6 linked regions of the Homo sapiens genome follow. The protein of the gene in region 6 purifies or fractionates together with the protein of the main gene of each other region. This does not show direct contact. Each region holds a gene or a part of one and is shown on either strand. Other genes may lie near its edges. The genes, in order: ERLIN2, WDR48, SURF4, ERC1, RER1 and SLC16A6.

Region 1 (2,644 bases), on a different chromosome or scaffold from region 6:
GTGATTAATAGCACGGAAATGGGAGGAAGATGAATGTATTTTAAATGGATACTCCCTATGCTAGTCTTGGGAAATGACCTTCTTTTCTTGAGACGGAGCCTTGCTCTATTGCCCAAGCTAGAGTGGGATGGCATGATCTTGGCTCACTGCAACCTCTGCCTCCCGAGTTCAAGCAATTCTCCTGCCTCAGCCTCCCAAGTAGCTGGGATTACAGGTGCCTGACACCATGCCCGGCTAATATTTCTATTTTTCGTAGAGATGGGGTTTCGCATGTTGGCCAGGGTGGTCTCGAACTCCTAACCTCAGGTGATCCGCCTGCCTTGGCCTCCCAAAGTGCTGGGATTACAGGTGTGAGCCACCGCGCCCGGCCAAGGGAAATGACCACCTTCTGAAAGGACTCTGGAGCACATTAAAATCCATCACTCCCAGGCACATTTTGTTGCCTGCAAAAAGTGTGCCCAGGACCAGAAGTCCCAGGAGTCAGAACAGAGAAGGGCAACTTTGAAGTAAGGGGAGCTAACACTGTATCTTTCTAGGCAGGCTCAATGCTCCCAAAACTTCTGAGCAAGCTGGCCCAAGCTCTGGGACCATTCCTTAAACCAGAAGTCTGGGCATGGGCCCAAAAAGAAGGCAGGGATTGCTGCCAGAAAGGACCATTCACAGATTCACCTAGGGAAGATGGGTATAGGAGTTGGCGGGGGGGGGGGGTGGGGGGTGGGGGGTGGGGGTCAGCTCATAACAGGGCCAAGTCCTAAGCCAGAGGTGGTCATGGAGGGCACCAATATGCTTGCAAGTTAACTCCAGATAGCTGCCCTCCACTTAATTCTAGACACAACCCATGGGCTATACAGGTTGGACACCCCCTACCCCTCAATCTCAGGATATAAGAAAAACCTTTTGTTCAAATTTGCTCTCCCCATCCTGAATCTCCCAAGGTGACTCAAAATGTTCTGACCTAGTAATGAAAAAGAAAACCCTTTGAATGGATTTTGGCACAGCCATTCCAACCTGGGGACTTGGGCATGAACTCTGATTTGCTCCACACAGCTGTCTCTGGAGACTGAATGTTCAGCCTGACTTGCGTTGCTGCCTGCAGCCCTGGATTTAAAAACACAGGCTACTTAGTGAATAGAGTCCTTTTATCACTAAGTCAGACCCACTCCCAGCACAAGCCACAGGCATTAAGACCAGGACATCTCTTGACTGATCGTTCCTCCTCCTCCACACATGGTGTCAGACCTCTTCACTACAGAATCTCTACAATAATAGAAAGACACTTCATCTCGAGGTGCACACATAACCTGTCAGGCAGGTCCTGCAGTGGCTAAGAGATAACAAGGATCCCACTCCAGCAGCTGTTAAGACACTTGAGTTGTTTGTCCCTGTCTTCTTGATGCTGAGTGGAACCAATGAACAGAATTTTTGAGAAGAAAAAAAAAAAACAAATCACAGCATAGGTGAAAAGATGCCGAAATAATTGAGTTGTGGTGATCAAGCTCTGACTCTAGAAATGTAGTCAGAAACCACCACTCTGAGCCCTAGGGCAAGGAGCAAAGTGTATACAAAATCTTGCAAAACCTAGCACCAGTACTTCCTTATGAGGGCTCAAGAAAGCACACCTCTAAAATAACTCACACACATGCAGACAAGAATGCCAGGAAGGTCAAATGTTCTCTGCAGCTGTTTCTTCACAGCTCTACTGGCAAACTCACAGGCACATATTTGCTCAGTTGCTGAGCCTCACCCACAGACATCTCCTACCTTGGAGGCAGAGGTGAGAACACTGGACTGCATTTTCCCAAGTAAGGGAAATCAAATGAGTTGGAGGTAACACTCTACATTTCTCCCTCTCCTTAATGACAGCATCCCTAATTAAGCCAGCCTCAAAGGATAAAATTAGTGTCTAGAGGTCAAAGGTCAAGCCCATGATTTACAAATCTTATTGGAAGTCATATAAACTGCTTACCTGAAATAAAACCCCCCATCATCAGTCCCCACCCTCCTTTCCCTAGAAAGGGAGTGGATTTAAGTTCATTTCTTCTTTTTCACCACAGTAACTGGAAGACAGTCAGAGAAGGTAGTCGGGGAGGGAGGAACATTCTGATTCATCTTAAAAAATAAAGATCTGCTTAAGTATCATTTGCAGTCATATCAAGTTTTTTTCAATTCTCCTTAGTGGCCGTCTCCAAGGGTTCATCTTCTAAGCCAAAGCTTAGCTTGTCAGCTAGCCCCTCAAACTGCTTGCTCACACTGCCCGCAGAGTCCATGAACATGTTAGGAATGTCTTTGCCAAAGTAAATCTTGCTGTTGGAAGCAATGGCCTTGTACTTCATCAGCTGCAGATATTCAGGGGTTAGCTTCAGCTGTTAAAAAAAAAAAAAGTATGGAAGACTTATGTTGAACCATATTAGAGAAGGAGGGGAGTGGTGCCCCTTCAATTTTCCTATATTTATGCCCCTACCTACTTTTTGTGGTCTCATTGTTACATTTCTGTAAGAGACAGTCATCTCAGATCTTGGAGCATAGGTGCAAAAGTTAAAAGTTTCCATGTTTAACACAAAATTAAACTAAACTTCTATCAAGGCATGTCCAAGGAGAAGGAAAGTACCTGCACCACACAGCAAAGGCATCCTCAGTTCTGCCC
Region 2 (3,500 bases), on a different chromosome or scaffold from region 6:
ATCTGACAAAGGGCTAATATACAGAATCTACAAAGAACTTAAACAAATGTACAACAACAACAACAACAAAAACAACCCCATCAAAAAGTGGGCAAAGGATATGAACAGACACTTCTCAAAAGAAGACATTTCTGCAGCAGACACAAGAAAAAATGCTCATCATCACTGGCCATCAGAGAAATGCAAATCAAAACCACAATGAGATACCATCTCATGCCAGTTAGAGTGGCAGTCATTAAAAAGTCAGGAAACAACAGATGCTGGAGAGGATGTGGAGAAATAGGAATGCTTTTACACTGTTGGTGGGAGTGTAAAGTAGTTCAACCACTGTGGAAGACAGTGTGGCGATTCCTCAAGAATCTACAACTAGAAATACCATTTGACCCGGCCATCCCATTACTGAGTATATACCCAAAGGATTATAAATCATTCTACTATAAAGAAACATGCCCACGTATGTTTATTGCAGCACTATTCACAATAGCAAAGACTTGGAACCAACCCAAATGTCCATCAATGATAGACTGAATTAAGAAAATGTGGCACATATACACCATGGAATACTATGCAGCCATAAAAAAGGATGAGTTCATGTCCTTTGCAGGGACATGGATGAAGCCAGAAACCATCATTCTCAGCAAACTATCACAAGGACAGAAAACCAAACACCACATGTTCTCACTCGTAAGTGGGAGCTGAACAATGAGAACACATGGACACAGGGCAGGGAACATCACACACTGGGGCATGTTGGGGGGTAGGGGGCTGGGGGAGGGATAGCATTAGGAGAAATACCTAATGTAAATAACAAGTTGATGGGTGCAACAAACCAACATGGCACATGTATACTTATGTAACAAACCTGCACGTTGTGCACATGTACCCTAGAACTTGAAGTATAATAATTAAAAAAAATTATCTCAAGTACCTATAGTGATTCTATTAGGAACAATTATACCCTTTCTCCACATCTTAAACCAAAAACGAATTTTTCTATGAATTAAAGACTGAAATTTAATAACCATAAAAATAATTTTTGTTTTTATTTTTTGAGAGAATCTTGCTCTGTCACCCAGGCTGGAAAGCAGTGGCCCGATCTTGGCTTACTACATCCTCTACCTCCCAGGTTCAAGCAATTCTCGTGCCTCAGCCTCCTGAGTAGCTGGGATTACAGGCATATGCCACTGTGCCCAGCTGATTTTTGCATTTTTAGTAGAGATGGTGGTTTCACCATGTTGGCCAGGCTGGGTTTCAAGTGGTCCACCCGCCTCAGCCTCCCAAAGTGCTGGGATTACAGGCGTGAGCCACTGCACCTGGCCAGCATAAAAATAATTTTTAAAAGACAGGTGAATATTTACATAGTCCCTTGCCAGAGAAAACTCTTCCAACATGCCAAGAAAGATGGTAATCTTTACGAAGGAAAAGAGCAATGGTGATCTGGCCAAATACAAGTCAAAACCTTTTCTATGTACAAGAATGTTCACAGCATTGTGGCATTCACAATAATGTTACAAAAGTGGAAACAACCCAAATATCCATCAATGGACAAAACAAATAAAATGTGATGTGTGTGTGTGCATATATATATATATATATGCACACACACACACTGTACTGACACATGCTATAACGTGGATGAACCTTGAAAATGTGCTAAGTGAAAGAAGCCACATATTTTACAAAAGGCCACATATTTTATGACTCTATTTATATATAATGTCTAGGATAGACAAATCCACACAGAAAGTAGATTAGTAATTGCCAGGAGATTGAAGGAGGGAAAAATGAAAAACGGGGAGTAATTGCTAATGAACATAGAGTAATTAAACATTCTGGAGTTAGGTGACCAATAAACAACTTTCCGAATATACAAAAAAATCACTGAATTGTACACTTTGAAAGGGTGCACTTTATGGTATGTGAATTTTATCACAATGTTATTATTTTCTTAAACCTTCTGAATGTCAAAAAGTAACACGAGCAAGACTAAGAGAATAATGAAATAAATATGAAAGAAAGTTTACTCTTAACAAGATTCCTTATAAAATAAGAAAAAGTCAAATTTACCAACAGAAAGAGGGACAGTTACAAAAAGGGACTTTTTAAAAAAGAAATGGCCAAAAACCCCATAAATAATCAAAGACAAAATTAATATGAGATTATTTTACCTATAATACAAGAATTTTTTAAAATAACTGCCATTTTTGTTTCCCCTGAGGATAAATAAACACTTTCTGACAAAAGTTTTAAACTCTTTGAAATGTTCTTTAAAATTCAATTTCCAGAAATTTGTCCTTTAAAAAGGGCCAGGGCTGCAGACACAAATAGCTACAAGGATGTTGTTTTAACCCAGTCTTTTGGATGCAATTAACTGTAACTGAGATCTACTCAAACCAGCTTTTGTTTGTTTGTTTGTTTTTTAAAGGAGACTTCAACACAAGGATATCTTAACAGAGCCCAAGGTCAGGAAATACAGTCATCATTTATAAGAGGCATTTAAAAAATCAAATCATGACACTTCTCTGCTGAAACTTTCCAATGGCTTTTCACAAAATTTAAAGTTCAAACTCCTCAAATGCTTAGTTCTGACCCTGCATCCCCCACTCATTTCAAACTGACTGCCCCCAGCTTCTTTTATGACAGTCATTCCAAACTCCTTTCTGTTACCGTAAACACATCAAGCTCTTTCCCATCCCAGTACCTTCTCATTTACTGTTGCCAGTGTCATGAAGATTCACCACCCCTCGAATCCCTATAGGAATACTCTTTCTCCAGCTTTCATCTTGTCTAACTCACCCTTACTCTTCAGATCTTAGGAGAAAGGTCTCCTTGGAAAGGCCTTTCTGATCTCATTCTCCTCAGGGTTATGACCCTATCTATCTTACATTACTTATTTAACAGTTCTTACCACATTCTGTATTTTTTTTTTTTTTTTTTTTTTGAGACGGAGTCTCACTGTATCGCCCAGGCTGGAGTGCAGTGGTGCGATCTTGGCTCACTGCAACCTCTGCTGCCCAGGTTCAAGCAATTCTCCCAACTCAGGCTCCCGAGTAGCTTAGATTACAGGTGCCTGCTATGGCGCCCAGCTAATTTTTGTATTTTTAGTAGAGACAGGGTTTCGCCATCTTGGCCAGGCTGGTCTTAAACTCCTGACCTTCTGATCCACCCACCTTGGCCTCCCAAAATGCTGGGATTACAGGTGTGAGCCACCGCGCCCAGCCACATTTATATTTTTTGGTGTATCTTCTCCATTAGAATAATAGCTCCAAGAAGGCAAGGGACTTGTCTGCCTTGTTCCTTCCACCCCTGTGCCCCCATTATAGTGTCTGGCATATAAAAGACATACGTATCATTGCATGAATTGGCTTTCCAAAGCCACCAGGAACCAAGCTAGCTTCAATGTCAACTTCAGCCTCTCTCAATCTCTCTTTCTCTGGGGTTCCAGGGCTGCTTACCTAGCTCACATTTCCTTTAACTGAGACTGTGCAGCATATCTAAAT
Region 3 (3,500 bases), on a different chromosome or scaffold from region 6:
CCAATGCAGAGAACCAGCACAAGATGCCCATGTGCACAGTGTGACGCAACCTGCATCACACTGGGTGGTGGGAAAGGTGACGCCACACACCCTCCCCAGGTTCTGCCTCATGGCCCCGTTGCTCTCTAAATGCCCAGCAACAGTGTAATCACCCATATTCCATGGAAGAGAGAAAGCACACCACCGTGGCACACGATGTGCCACTGCTCTCAAGGAATGGCCTCACATCGTGGCCCAGCTGGGAAGCCCCAGCAAGGACACAAGCCTTTATCTCATCTGAACCTGGGGAAAAGCAACCACTGGGAAGGAAGAGCTCAACAGGAGGCTGTCCAGACCTCTGAGATGAGACGGAGCCGTGGTGGGACTCCCAGGGCAGGGTGTGGGTGTGGGGCGTGGACCCCAACAGCAGCAGAGAGGTAGACTGCAATCCATACCCAAGACAGACACCAGAGGTGTTCTGACTTGCTTCTAAAATGAGAGCTGTGAGCCACTCACTGGCCTGAGATGAGCAAACCAGCCCAGCCATGGGCTGCGGTCTAAGCCTCCCCCAGTTGCAGGACCTGCATTTAACATGCTCATCTACGTGCACAGCCCACGAGATTGAGGCAGTGTTTAAAAGTCTCTTTGAATGAGTCTGCGACTCTTAATTTGAGTGTCTGGGTCAAGAGGATTAAAGAGCAAAAAAGAGAGAGAAGGTGGGACAGGCAATTCACACCTCCTTCCCTGCGCAAACATGGTGACGAAACAGACACAGCTCTTGGCTTTGGGGAAAAATATGCAAAAATCTAGGTACTGCCTTCTGAACTGAGCACACCTACTGCTTGGCTGTCCTGGTTTTCAAAGGCAAGCCTGGTCCACACTGAAGGCTGAAGTCAGGCTGATGCAGTCTCCTCTAAACTGGCCACCATTTAATGAGCATCTGTTTGGACTGAACACTGAAAAAGCCACGTTTAAAGACAAGGCCCAACATTAACCTTATTTCCTACATGCATGTTGGTCACAACTACTTCAACTTGGCCACTGGAACCATGTCATGCCACTCTAGAACACGTCCCAGAGCCAGTGTCCCCTCAGCACAGCAGAGAAGAGCCCTCAACACAGGCAGGACACACAGCACCCCAGGACAGACAAGAGCAGCCGCACTGCAGGCACTAAGGCCATTGCTGGTAGCCAGCACACAGGTGACCTGTGTAAACACGGCGAGCACATAAAACTTGTGACAGTCCCCCTCCCCCCCATTAGAGAACTGCGACAGCAGAGCCAGAGGTGGCTGTTGACCTGGCAGGCTGCAGGAAGAAGATGACAGTTAGCTCACCTCTGTGGCCAAGCTTCTCATTAAGTCTCTCCGAGAACCGCGCCATCAAGCAGGATATGGTTCATAAGCAGTGACAGCATCTGAGGGGCTTAACAGGAAGACTGATATTTCTCTCAAAGGGGTGGTTATTTTAGACGACTGAAGGGGATTTTAGAAACGTAATTAATTATATCCACCCTGAGATGACTTCCTGGGCATCCAGTGATCACTGTCACAGCCACCTGCAGCTCCCACGCCACACAGAAAACTCCACTTTCTCTTCACACTCAGGACAGAAAGAAATTGAGGAAAGCAGCTTGCAAATTCGTGGTGAATGTGAACATCGACGAAAAAGGCAGGTCAGATTTCCTTGATCACCAAGGACTGGGGCTGCCTTGTTCAAAGCCCAACTCAGGTCCCACACATCCTAGAAACAAGCACCTGCGGCCCAGCGGCTTCCCTCACATCAGCCTGTCAGAGCTGGCTCGAGCTCACTGGCTCACTGCAGCTCCAGAACTTCCCCGAGCCCCGCTCCCATGCTGCTCTATAGGTTCACACTGCACCCTGCAGGGCCAGAAAGGATGTCGCCAGCCCAATGTGGGAGATGATGGCCTGGCTTTACTAAAAAACTGTGTGATCAAAATCCCAACTATAGGAAAGACGTAACTGAGAACGACTGGGCCCCATGTTCTGGGAGGAGCCCCGCTAACCACAACCTCCTCTGCTCCTCGCCCGCACTCCCCTGAAGAGTGAGTTTTAACCTCCCGTTAAGATCATCACACAAAGAAAAGTGAGTCAGCTCCTCTTTGCCTTCTCTCCCCACTCCTTCATGATATAGGGCAGGGTATGACAGAGCCTGCCACTGTCACCAGGACTTTGCCACACCAGTCACCAGCATGGTGTTCATCGGGACCCTCACAGTGCCTGTGCCACCTGCAAGTTCAGGGGTCCTCAGGCCTATCCTTGCTTCCCCAGCACTTCAACTAGGGCCGAGGCCAGCTCCTAGGGCCCAGGACTAGCTCTGCCACTCTTGAGGACAGGTTAAAAACACCAAAGGTCACACTGGAGAGGAAGGCCCCATGCAGCTTTTCTGTCACCTTGGTGATGAGCCACCAGGCAGAACCCATTAAGTGCTAATATTGCTGTTTATGGGTATAAACTGCTTAGAAGCTACATTTTACAGAGTGTCTAATAGGCAATGAGGAGCAGCTGCAGGCATGGACATTAGTTTGGATTGCTGAGTTCATTAGTTTCTGGACCCTTCCCATGGCTTCCAAATGCCAAGCTCCTGCATAGAGCACGTCTCAGCAGTTTCTACAGAGCATGGCTCCTGGGAGCAAGAGGACACTGTCCCTGGCTGCCAGAGCAAGCAGCTTGATGCCAGAGGCAGAGAGACAAGAGATGCAACTGTGGGGAGCCTGCCAGCAGAAACTAACCAGACTGCTCGTCCCCGTGGACCAGCCTCTGCAGGCCAGAAGGAAAGATCAGTCAACCAAGCAGTGAGGAACCCAGCCTTTGGGGTAACAGGATGCGGACTCAGTCTCCAGGCCACCACAAGCCAGTGCGGCCAGCCAACCTCCCTCTGCCCATCTGAAGATGGTGACGCTCTGGCCAACCTCCTACAGTCAAGAAGTTCACAAAAGGAATGTCTATCATGGACCCGGCCCAGTGAAAGACTTAATGTCATTGTCATAATACTGGAAGACACTGGGCCTGGGAAACTAAGCTTACTTAGGTCTTGCTTTCAGCAGCCCACACTTTCTGGTCAAATCTTGTCACTTCAGTTTTGCTCTTGTTTTCTGAAGATGTGAAAAAATGGATGTGTCACTTTATCTGATCAGTGACTTCCATGGTAATCCTCTATCGGCTTCAAATTAGGTCATTTTCATGTAAAAGCCTGGTCTGGCAGCTTTAAGTACTATGTGAATAAAGAGAAACAAAGCCCCACCTGGGCTTGGTCAGATTCTGTCCACAAGAAGCCATATTTTGACTTCGAACCCTGTTTACTTGCCTGCATCTGTCTGATTGGGGTTTGGGCGAGTACAAGTAGCTGCCCTCCCAAGCTGCCCACAAAAGGGCATGGAAGCTCCCACAGCCATGCTCTGCCACCACCTAGACGGACTCTTAAGGAGATCATCTGACGGCGGCAGCCTGCGCTGCCTTACAGATATGGTGCCTTACAGATATGGTCCTAACCCACTTGGGT
Region 4 (3,500 bases), on a different chromosome or scaffold from region 6:
ATTAGTAACTCTCCATTTCCCCCTACCCCCGGCAACTACCATTACACACTTTGATTCTGTGAATTTGACTATTTTAGATACCCAACACATGTACTATTATTTAATTTTATAAATGAGGGCACGAGGCTTAGAGAGGTTTAAGCACTTGTCCAAGATCACAGAGTAAGTGATAGAGCTGGCATTCAAAGCAATCCTTGCAGCCCACTAAAACTAGAACCAAGAAAAAAAGAAAACTCCAAATCAGCTTTCCTCCTCTAGTAGCAAAAACAGAGCAGATTGCAGAAATCAAAACTGGTAATACCCAAAGATAATAATATAGCAAAGTTTTTTTAAGTTAGAATATGCAAAGCTTTTTATACAGGGGACGGTAACAACATGGGTGGCTAATTAAATAAAGGTGTTAATGCAGATGAACTACTAAAATGTTTGAGAGGGTAGATCTTTAGCTTCTATCCCTAAAGAAGGTACACGAACCTTTAATCTGAATGGTTATGTAAATTCCAGCACATTATACAATGAATTCCAAAAGGCTGTGACATCAAAAATCTTATTTTTAGGAATGAAGAAGCAACAATAAAAGATCATTCCTTGTATTCAAGGCCTAAGCAGTGTACCATACTGGGAAGAACACGAAACTGTGATGAGAAAACATGAGTTTCAGTTCTGACTCTCACGCTGACTAGTTATGACATTTAGACATGTCACCATCTTTCTGGGTTTCAGATCCCTCATACTTTAAATAAGGGTATAAATACCTGCATTATCCATTGAAAAAATCTTTTTTTTTTTTTGGAAATAAGGTGGCTGCTCTATTAGTTCGTTTTCACGCTGCTGATAAAGACATACCCAAAACTGGAAACAAAAAGAGGTTTAATTGGACTTACAGATCCACGTGGCTAAGGAAGCCTCAGAATCACGGTATGAGGCAAAAGGCACTTGTTTAATTGGACTTACAGTTCCACATGGCTGAGGAAGCCTCAGAATCACGGTATGAGGCAAAAGGCACTTCTTACATGGCGGCAGCAAGAGAAAATCAGGAAGAAGCAAAAGCGGAACCCCCTGATAAACCCATCAGATCTCGTGAGACTTACTCACTATCACGAGAATAGCATGGGAAAGACTGGCCCCCATGATTCAATTACCTCCTCCTATGGCCCTCCCACAACATGTGGGAATTCTGAGAGATACAATTCCAGTTGAGATTTGAATGGAGACACAGCCAAACCATATCACCTGCTAATGATTTTCAGCCTTAAAAAGGAAAGAAATTCTTACACATGCTACAACACAGATGAACCTTCAAGACGTTGTGCTAAGTGAAATAAGCCAATCACAAAAAGACAAACACTATATGTATCCATTGACATGAGGTATCTAGAGCAGTCGAATTGATAAAGAAGGAACTAGAACAGTGGTTGCCAGGACATAGGAGTGGGACAGAACGAGGAGTTATTGTTTAATGGGTATACAGTTTCAGTCTGTCAAGATGAAAAGAGTTCTGGAGATAGATGGGATATACTGAATGCCACTAAACTGTACACTTCGAAATGGTTAAGATGGTAAATTTTATGTTATATATATTTTACCATAATAAAAAAATTGGTTGGAGAGAAGATGTTGGTCATAAAATTCCACTTACGGATATTTTAGGTTAGTTCTCATTTTTCACTATTGTAAGATGCACCTTCACATATGTATCTTTACACATGAATCCACATTTTTCTTGGGAACTCTCAAAGATGGAATTGCTGGATCACAAAGTATGTACAATTGTAATTCTGATACATATTACAAATCATTTCTATATGTATCTTTGTATATCAACTTTTGTCATATTACAAATCATTTCTATCTGTATCTCTGTATATCGACTTTTGTCATATTACAAATCATTTCTATCTGTATCTCTGTATATCGACTTTTGTCATATTACAAATCATTTCTATCTGTATCTCTGTATATCGACTTTTGTCATATTACAAATCATTTCTGTCTATATCTCTGTATATCGACTTTTGTCATATTACAAATCATTTCTATCTGTATCTCTGTATATCGACTTTTGTCATATTACAAATCATTTCTATCTGTATCTCTGTATATCGACTTTTGTCATATTACAAATCATTTCTATCTGTATCTCTGTATATCGACTTTTGTCATATTACAAATCATTTCTATCTGTATCTCTGTATATCGACTTTTGTCATATTACAAATCATTTCTATCTGTATCTCTGTATATCGACTTTTGTCATATTACAAATCATTTCTATCTGTATCTCTGTATATCGACTTTTGTCATATTACAAATCATTTCTATCTGTATCTCTGTATATCGACTTTTGTCATATTACAAATCATTTCTATCTGTATCTCTGTATATCGACTTTTGTCATATTACAAATCATTTCTATCTGTATCTCTGTATATCGACTTGTCGTATTACAAATCATTTCTATCTGTATCTCTGTATATCGACTTTTGTCTTATTACAAATCATTTCTATCTGTATCTCTGTATATCGACTTTTGTCATATTACAAATCATTTCTATCTGTATCTCTGTATATCGACTTGTCATATTACAAATCATTTCTATATGTATCTCTGTATATCGACTTTTGTCATATTACAAATCATTTCTATATGTATCTCTGTATATCGACTTTTGTCATATTACAAATCATTTCTATCTGTATCTCTGTATATCGACTTGTCATATTACAAATCATTTCTATCTGTATCTTTGTATATTGACTTTTGTCATATTACAAATCATTTCTATCTGTATCTTTGTATATCGACTTTTATCATATTACAAATCATTTCTATCTGTATCTTTGTATATCGACTTTTGTCATATTACAAATCATTTCTATATGTATCTTTGTATATCGACTTTTGTCATATTACAAATCATTTCTATCTGTGTCTTTGTATATCAACTTTTGTGACTCCTCTCTCCTTGTTCTTTGCCCATTTTGTTATTGAACATTTTTTCTTAATCCATTTTAAGAGCTCTTCATATTAGGAAAATAACCTTTCACCTGCTGTGTATGTTACAAATATTTTTCCAAGTCTGCCATTTTTCTTTTAACATTGTTTATGATGACTTTTAATAGATATTTTCTTTTTTAATACAAAGACAATGACATTTTCCTTTATCATTTCCGGTTTGGGTATTATGCTTTTAGCAAGCAGTGAGCTTTCAATTCTGGTAGTCTTCAAACACTTGAAAAGCACTGCTATTTCTTTCGAAGAATAAACTCACCAAAAAAAAAAAAATCAGGAATTTAAATTCATGAATATAAATTTTAAAATGCATTTCACTACCAGCATCATCTTTTAAAGATTAACAGTTGCTGGAGTTCAAAAGACCTTCAATAAAAAGATGTATCAAAATGCTAATTCTCTGAAGCCTAGTTTCTTTCCCTTGGAAGTCAAAAAAAATCCTGACACTCCTGAGTGAATATATCCCAAAGGGAAATACCAGAAGTGA
Region 5 (3,500 bases), on a different chromosome or scaffold from region 6:
AGCTTTTCCAGTCAGACGGCTGAACGCCAGATGTGAGGGCTAACTGATGTCTGTGTGTCCATCCCTGGCTGAACGCCGGATGTGAGGGCTAACTGATGTCTGTGTGTCCATCCTCGGCTGAACGCCGGATGTGAGGGCTAACTGATGTCTGTGTGTCCATCCTCGGCTGCAGGGCCACACCTGAAGAGACGCCAAATGAGGCACGAGCTTGGTTTCGAACGCAATAAAACTGACCTGTGGGTGCTGCACTCTTCCCGCCCCCTGCTCCTGCCTGAAGTCCCTGATTCAAGATTTCTAGGTCATTCTTTCCATCAGAGAATGGACCCAGTTCCAATTTAAAAACAAAAATAAATAAATAAATTAAGGTGTGTGCTTTAAACAAGGAAGTATCTTCTACAGTCCCCAGAGGAGAAAATAGCCCAGACAAGGCTTTCAACATGCCCTGCTCTGCACATAAGATTATGTAACCTCCTCTAAAGACCGACGAAGAATTCCCATCTTACAGGTTTGCTCCTAGAAACCCCGTGTTTACCAGCAAGTAAAGGAGCACCCAGGTGAAGTCTGAGACGACATCACCTGACCTAGGGGTGCCCGAAAACACACGAAGGAAACCCTCAAGACCCCCTTCGGTCACTGTCTCTCTTACTTGACTCGGCGTCTCAACCTGCACTGTGCTTTGGCCTCACACAAGGGAGAGCTCAGGAAAAGCTACATAAACCCTTTGGACGCCGAGTCATTCATGACACCCAAGGCATGGACTCTTCACCCAAGGAATGAGGCAGCCACAGAGCGCAACCTTGTCCTGAGCATCATGCAGCAGGGTCGGAGGGACACCAGCGGCTCCACTGTCCAGGCCTGGACGTGCCCAGGGCAGGGCCAGGCTGGGCTCAGGACGGCCTGGGTATACTGAGAAGCCTGGCGAGGCGACTCCGGGTGAATCATAAACAACCCTGTTCGTTAAAGACAGTCACTGAGATCTTTCTGACATTTGGCGTTTAGCTGAAAATTGATTACTAGAGACCACTTCCTGCAAGACAGACTGGATCAACAACATCCCCACAAACATCACGCCCAGGTAACGTGGACAGAGCCAAGTCTCGTCACTTCAGCCCACACCTACCTGCAGCAGGTAAACTCGAATCATGTAGACAAAGCTCAGGCCCAGTGTCACGACCCATCGCACAGCCGTGTAGGGTGTGGACTTGTCTAGCCAGGACTGATAAATCTAGAAAGACAAGAGTCCAAAAGCATGAAGCAGGTCCTGTAACTTCTGTACTGACCCTGCCACAAAATGTACCTTCTGCTAGGGTTGGCTTTCAATTTTTAAAACAGCTAAAAGAGTGAGTTAAAATAGCAAGAGATCATCTATGTATCAGCACAAAGAAGTGACTACAATTAATCCAAAGTTTATTTTCAATAATTCCTGAAGCAGGTTCATCTCTTAAGCAAGACTATTACAAAACAATCTCCTAGGAGACTGTGACATTGTGCTGGCCCCAAGGGATCACTATGGGGAAGACCCAGCCTCACCCCAAAGAGAGGACTGTGCATCTCAAAGTCCCCACCCTACAGCACAGCCCTTATCGTCACATCTCAAGTCAGCTCCCCCATCTGCAGCAGCCAGCAGCCAGCCTTGCCCCGCTCCCAGGCCCACTGGCCACAGCCTGAGCCCCAGCAGCCACACCCACATGTGTGTGCGTCCAGGCGGCTGTGGACATGACCGAAGGAGCCCTTAGTTTTATGTATTTATTTTTACAAATATACATATGTATGGTTTTTTATTTTAATTTAGAAATTTAATTTTCAAATTGTGAGAAATTTCCAAATTCACAAAAGTAAAAAGATTATAGAAGCTTACATATGCCTGTCACCCAACTTCATTAATCGCCAATCGCTTTTCATATGTGATTTAATTAAGGTGATGAATTTTTATTTGAGCCGGATCCTCAGCACCTGGAACTGCCGGTGACCCAAGCTTTTCCTGACAGAGGTTCGGACTCCAGCGTTCAAAGGCAGCTCTAGGTCCCTCACTCACCAAGCAATGCACACGCAGCCCACACAAGAGCCTCTCACCCTCAAGGACAGAACCGCCGAGCTGACACGGGGCAGGTGGGGCTACCAGCACCGGGGACGTGGGTGGCTGGGAGAGGGACAGCAAGAGCAGAACGGCAGCCACGGCCGCATCTGTCCTGCCTGGGAGCTGAGACTGGGTTTTATATTTTTAAAGCTTGGTAAAAGGAAAACAGAAACAGAAAACGCATATGTTTGATAGACCACGTGTGGCCCCAGAGCCCGATCTCTCCACAGCTGGCCCTTCACAGTGAAGAGAACGCTGTCTTCAGGAAGTTTGAGCCTGAGGCGAAGTAACTTCTCCATCAGGAACACCAGCAAACAGATCCTTCCCGAAAATGCTGGGAGTCCCGTTTCTTTTTCAAATATTTATACTCATCTACTAAAAAACCCACCAACCTGTCCAAGTCTTGTGAAAAATCTGTACACCACCGAAGGTTTCCCATGGACGGATTCTCCCACACTGTCCCCTTCAGACATTCTGTAACTGGGAGAAAAACACAAAATACTTTTCAGTAAAAAGCATTCACGGGTGTGAAATCCTGGCCCTATTTTCACCAACACTGTCAAGTAGGTTTCTTCCACATTCAGTATTTTGTCCATATACCATTTGTGTTTTTACCATGAATTGTTCGGGAAAAAGTAGCAGGTACACAGGCTTCCCTGGAGAGGAAGGGCAGCGTGAGACGCATGGGCCCAGGAGCACAGGCCGCATTTTCATTCCCACACTGGCACCTCAGTCACCTGCGTGGGCGGGACTGTCCACCCCACTGGCCCCAGGAGCAGCCTTGCTGGCCATGGGGTCCACTGGCTGGTCCATGGCACGTGGCACTGCATGTCCTCCCTCCAAGGACCGCACCCTCTGTGGATCCCTCAGGGTTCCCCCGCCCAGGCACCTTGTCTGCTCCACGCCCTGTCCTGGGTCTCTGGTCTGGCAGGAGCAGGAGGGATCCTGTCCTCTCAGGGCCAGGTCCTCCACCCCATGAACAGGAAAATGTTATCTACAACTCTCAGGTAGTCCATCCATCTGCGTCCCAGTTTCTTATCTGGCAAGCGGAGGTAACGTATCTGCTCCTATTTCAACACTGCTGTGATGCCATGAGGAATTCACCTGAGAACCCAGGTGCCAGAGGTCACATTGTTCACCCACTTAATTCCCAGATGCTCAAGTGAAGGGCATCATGACCCCCATTTCACCAAGTCTCAAACAGTGGAAGCCACGTGTCCAAGGTCCTGCCACAGCCCTGCTTCTGGGCAGGCCAAGCCAAGCCTGACTGCCACCTGGCTCCTCAGCTGAGCACGCCGCCACCCCACTCCTGAGAGGAGACGGCGTCAGGACCTGCCGCTCTTCGGTAAAGCACAGCTCAGTACCCAGGGCCTGCCGGTTGTCATTCCTACTTTAAAGATGAGAGGCCTCCTGGCCCCTGAGC
Region 6 (3,500 bases):
GGCAGCTAACCCTGAAGCCTCTGTGAGTTAAAATATCGTTTTGTTCTTTCCCGGCAGCTCCCCTCGCCACAGTCCTGAGCAATCGTTTCGGACACCGTCTGGTAGTGATGTTGGGGGGGCTACTTGTCAGCACCGGGATGGTGGCCGCCTCCTTCTCACAAGAGGTTTCTCATATGTACGTCGCCATCGGCATCATCTCTGGTAAGTGTTCCTCTTTGGCTCAGAAGTTGTCTAGACACTTAGTTTGAAGAACAAGGAAGGGGAAGGAGGAAATTAAAGCCAAACTATATTTCTTTCTCTTTCTTTTTTTCTTTAACATTAACAGTGTCTCAGATCAGTAGTTTTGAACTGAGCTATATGGACTTCAGGGGACCTGGGAATCTGTTCTCAAGTGCCCAAGGGTTTTTGTTTGATCTTCACCAAAGATGATGATAATTTCTCTTTTGCTGTATTTGCAGCCAAAAGATAGCATTTTTACAAAGTAAGACGAATTTCTGTAGCCAGTATTTCTCACATCAGTGTCTGAGGATCCAGGGCTGTAGGGGAAGTGCAACATGCCAGACTTATTCTTGGGGGCCTAAGAAAACCTTTTTCCATTCAAAAGGAGTAGCCAGCATGGTGGCTCATGCCTGTAATCCCAGCACTTCGGGAGGCTGAGACAGGAGGATCACGTGAGCCCAGCAGTTTGAGACCAACTGGGGCAACATAGGGAGACTCCATCTCTACAAAAAATAAAAACTAGCCAAGCGTGGTGGTGCGTGCCTGTGGTCCCAGCTGTAACCATCCTATCACTTTGGAGGCTGAGGTGGGAGGATCACTTGAGCCTGGGAGGTCAAGGCTCCAGTGAGCTGTGATCACACCACTGCACTCCAGCCTGGGCAACAGAGTGAGACCCTGTCTGTTTAAAAAAAAAAAAATGAAATGAACAATAAAAGGAGGCCATATATTCCTCATAGATGATAGATACACACACAGTTGTTAAGATTTGCAGACTTTAAATTTTTCCTGTATTTCTGCACATATGAAATGACTTATTTCTTTCTAGATACAAATCTTATATAAAATTTCATGCAATAATAGTTTCATCCATTGTGAATTATATAAATTTGAAAAAAAGTGTTGCAAAGATAAAAAAAAAAAAAGTTATATTTTTAGTATCCCAAACAACCACTGAAGTTTATCCAGACCGTTAATGAAACCCATTTTTCTTTGCAACATCACCTTTGTCCAGAATGAATTACTTGGCTCCTAGAACTTAAGATTCAAAAAGCAAAACCAAAAATCCCAGATCTTTTAATGCATCCTTCCAGTCTCAAGCAGTATGTGGGTCTCATTGGCTTTTTTGACTTTTCTTTCACAGGTCTGGGATACTGCTTTAGTTTTCTCCCAACTGTAACCATCCTATCACAATATTTTGGCAAAAGACGTTCCATAGTCACTGCAGTTGCTTCCACAGGAGAATGTTTCGCTGTGTTTGCTTTCGCACCAGGTAGGTGGACTACAACAGCCTAAGTATGAATGTGGATGAGAGACGTCACTCAGGTATTCTTGCTACGCTAACTTTTGCCAACAGTATGGATGACTTTCAGTGTATGTGTAATGAGACGTTATTTACGTCTCTTCTCCAGCTCATTTTTAGGATCTGTCCTCCCTAACCCCCACTTTAGGTATTCAGACCACCTTAATAATAGGTTTCAATTCCTAACTGGGCACATATGCAGTGGTAGGGCTTTCTTGACACATGCATTCCAGAATAATCTAGTAATTTGCAATTATTCACCTGTTATGTCCTCTCGTTTTTCAAAAGAGCTACATTCAATGTGGATTTAGATTATGCTAATAAACACAGCATTCTTATCTGTGTGTAGATCATCTCAAAACAAAATCTGTAACTGAGCACGGTGGCTTACACCTGTAATCCCAGCACTTTGGGAGGCTGAGGTGGGCGGATCACCTGAGGTCAGGTGATCGAGACCAGCCTGGCCAACATGGCAAAAACCTGTCTCTACTTAAAACACACAAAAAAAGGCCAGGTGCAGTGGCTCATGCCTGTAATCCCAGTACTTTGAGAGGCCGAGGCAGGCAGATCAGGAGGTCAGGAGATCGAGACCATCCTGGCCAACACAGTGAAACCCTGTCTCTACTAAAAATACAAAAATTGGCTGGTCGTGGTGGCGCACGCCTATAGTCCCAGCTACTCAGGAGGCTGAGGCAGGAGAATCGCTTGAACCCGGGAGGTGGAGGTTGCGGTGAGCTGAGATCAGGCCACTGCACTCCAGCCTGGTGACAGAGTGAGACTCTGTCTCAAAAAGTAAATAAATAAAGATTGAGTACATTCATACTGCTGAGTATAATAAATTTCCACAGAACTTATAACAAAATCTGGATCCATATTTCTTCTTGATGGCTTCTCCTGGGTCTTGAGTCCATTATTGACCTTATATTATTTCTTCTTCACTCCTGCCTATTCAAGCAATCATGGCTCTGAAGGAGCGCATTGGCTGGAGATACAGCCTCCTCTTCGTGGGCCTACTACAGTTAAACATTGTCATCTTCGGAGCACTGCTCAGACCCATCTTTATCAGAGGACCAGCGTCACCGAAAATAGTCATCCAGGAAAATCGGAAAGAAGCGCAGTATATGCTTGAAAATGAGAAAACACGAACCTCAATAGACTCCATTGACTCAGGAGTAGAACTAACTACCTCACCTAAAAATGTGCCTACTCACACTAACCTGGAACTGGAGCCGAAGGCCGACATGCAGCAGGTCCTGGTGAAGACCAGCCCCAGGCCAAGCGAAAAGAAAGCCCCGCTATTAGACTTCTCCATTTTGAAAGAGAAAAGTTTTATTTGTTATGCATTATTTGGTCTCTTTGCAACACTGGGATTCTTTGCACCTTCCTTGTACATCATTCCTCTGGGCATTAGTCTGGGCATTGACCAGGACCGCGCTGCTTTTTTATTATCTACGATGGCCATTGCAGAAGTTTTCGGAAGGATCGGAGCTGGTTTTGTCCTCAACAGGGAGCCCATTCGTAAGATTTACATTGAGCTCATCTGCGTCATCTTATTGACTGTGTCTCTGTTTGCCTTTACTTTTGCTACTGAATTCTGGGGTCTAATGTCATGCAGCATATTTTTTGGGTTTATGGTTGGAACAATAGGAGGGACTCACATTCCACTGCTTGCTGAGGATGATGTCGTGGGCATTGAGAAGATGTCTTCTGCAGCTGGGGTCTACATCTTCATTCAGAGCATAGCAGGACTGGCTGGACCGCCCCTTGCAGGTAATTTAAATACACAAAATACAAACACTTGTCTACTTTCCCTTGTGAATTGTGCTAGCTTCCTGTTCAAGCCATAAAAAAAACTTACTGCCGTTTTATATTTCCATTGAATTTTAGAGCTGCCAGGGATTAGAGATTACCTGAGCCAGCCCTCTTGATTTAAATATGAGGAAACTGAAGGCCAAAGAATTGAAGCTAAAGGTCAGATGGT

Evidence for each region.
Region 1: the proteins of SLC16A6 (region 6) and ERLIN2 purify together in Homo sapiens (affinity purification with mass spectrometry; one large-scale study listed by BioGRID and IntAct). This does not show direct contact.
Region 2: the proteins of SLC16A6 (region 6) and WDR48 purify together in Homo sapiens (affinity purification with mass spectrometry; one large-scale study listed by BioGRID and IntAct). This does not show direct contact.
Region 3: the proteins of SLC16A6 (region 6) and SURF4 purify together in Homo sapiens (affinity purification with mass spectrometry; one large-scale study listed by BioGRID and IntAct). This does not show direct contact.
Region 4: the proteins of SLC16A6 (region 6) and ERC1 purify together in Homo sapiens (affinity purification with mass spectrometry; one large-scale study listed by BioGRID and IntAct). This does not show direct contact.
Region 5: the proteins of SLC16A6 (region 6) and RER1 purify together in Homo sapiens (affinity purification with mass spectrometry; one large-scale study listed by BioGRID and IntAct). This does not show direct contact.

The regions. Positions count from the first base shown.
Region 1 is NC_000008.11:37,753,634-37,756,277, reverse strand, and holds part of ERLIN2 (erlin-2), read right to left. Parts: intron 2,364-2,644; coding exon 2,163-2,363; 3' UTR 1-2,162. UniProt on the Homo sapiens protein: Component of the ERLIN1/ERLIN2 complex which mediates the endoplasmic reticulum-associated degradation (ERAD) of inositol 1,4,5-trisphosphate receptors (IP3Rs) such as ITPR1.
Region 2 is NC_000003.12:39,058,516-39,062,015, reverse strand, and holds part of WDR48 (WD repeat-containing protein 48), read right to left. Parts: intron 1-3,500. UniProt on the Homo sapiens protein: Regulator of deubiquitinating complexes, which acts as a strong activator of USP1, USP12 and USP46. Enhances the USP1-mediated deubiquitination of FANCD2; USP1 being almost inactive by itself.
Region 3 is NC_000009.12:133,369,561-133,373,060, forward strand, and holds part of SURF4 (surfeit locus protein 4), read right to left. Parts: exon of another isoform or gene 1,362-3,500; coding exon of another isoform or gene 1,316-1,361; intron 1-1,315. UniProt on the Homo sapiens protein: Endoplasmic reticulum cargo receptor that mediates the export of lipoproteins by recruiting cargos into COPII vesicles to facilitate their secretion.
Region 4 is NC_000012.12:1,078,223-1,081,722, reverse strand, and holds part of ERC1 (ELKS/Rab6-interacting/CAST family member 1), read right to left. Parts: intron 1-3,500. UniProt on the Homo sapiens protein: Regulatory subunit of the IKK complex. Probably recruits IkappaBalpha/NFKBIA to the complex. May be involved in the organization of the cytomatrix at the nerve terminals active zone (CAZ) which regulates neurotransmitter release.
Region 5 is NC_000001.11:2,394,841-2,398,340, reverse strand, and holds part of RER1 (protein RER1), read right to left. Parts: intron 2,558-3,500; 5' UTR 2,551-2,557; coding exon 2,470-2,550; intron 1,226-2,469; coding exon 1,121-1,225; intron 1-1,120. UniProt on the Homo sapiens protein: Involved in the retrieval of endoplasmic reticulum membrane proteins from the early Golgi compartment.
Region 6 is NC_000017.11:68,270,628-68,274,127, reverse strand, and holds part of SLC16A6 (monocarboxylate transporter 7), read left to right. Parts: intron 1-57; coding exon 58-201; intron 202-1,360; coding exon 1,361-1,489; intron 1,490-2,473; coding exon 2,474-3,289; intron 3,290-3,500. UniProt on the Homo sapiens protein: Monocarboxylate transporter selective for taurine. May associate with BSG/CD147 or EMB/GP70 ancillary proteins to mediate facilitative efflux or influx of taurine across the plasma membrane. The transport is pH- and sodium-independent.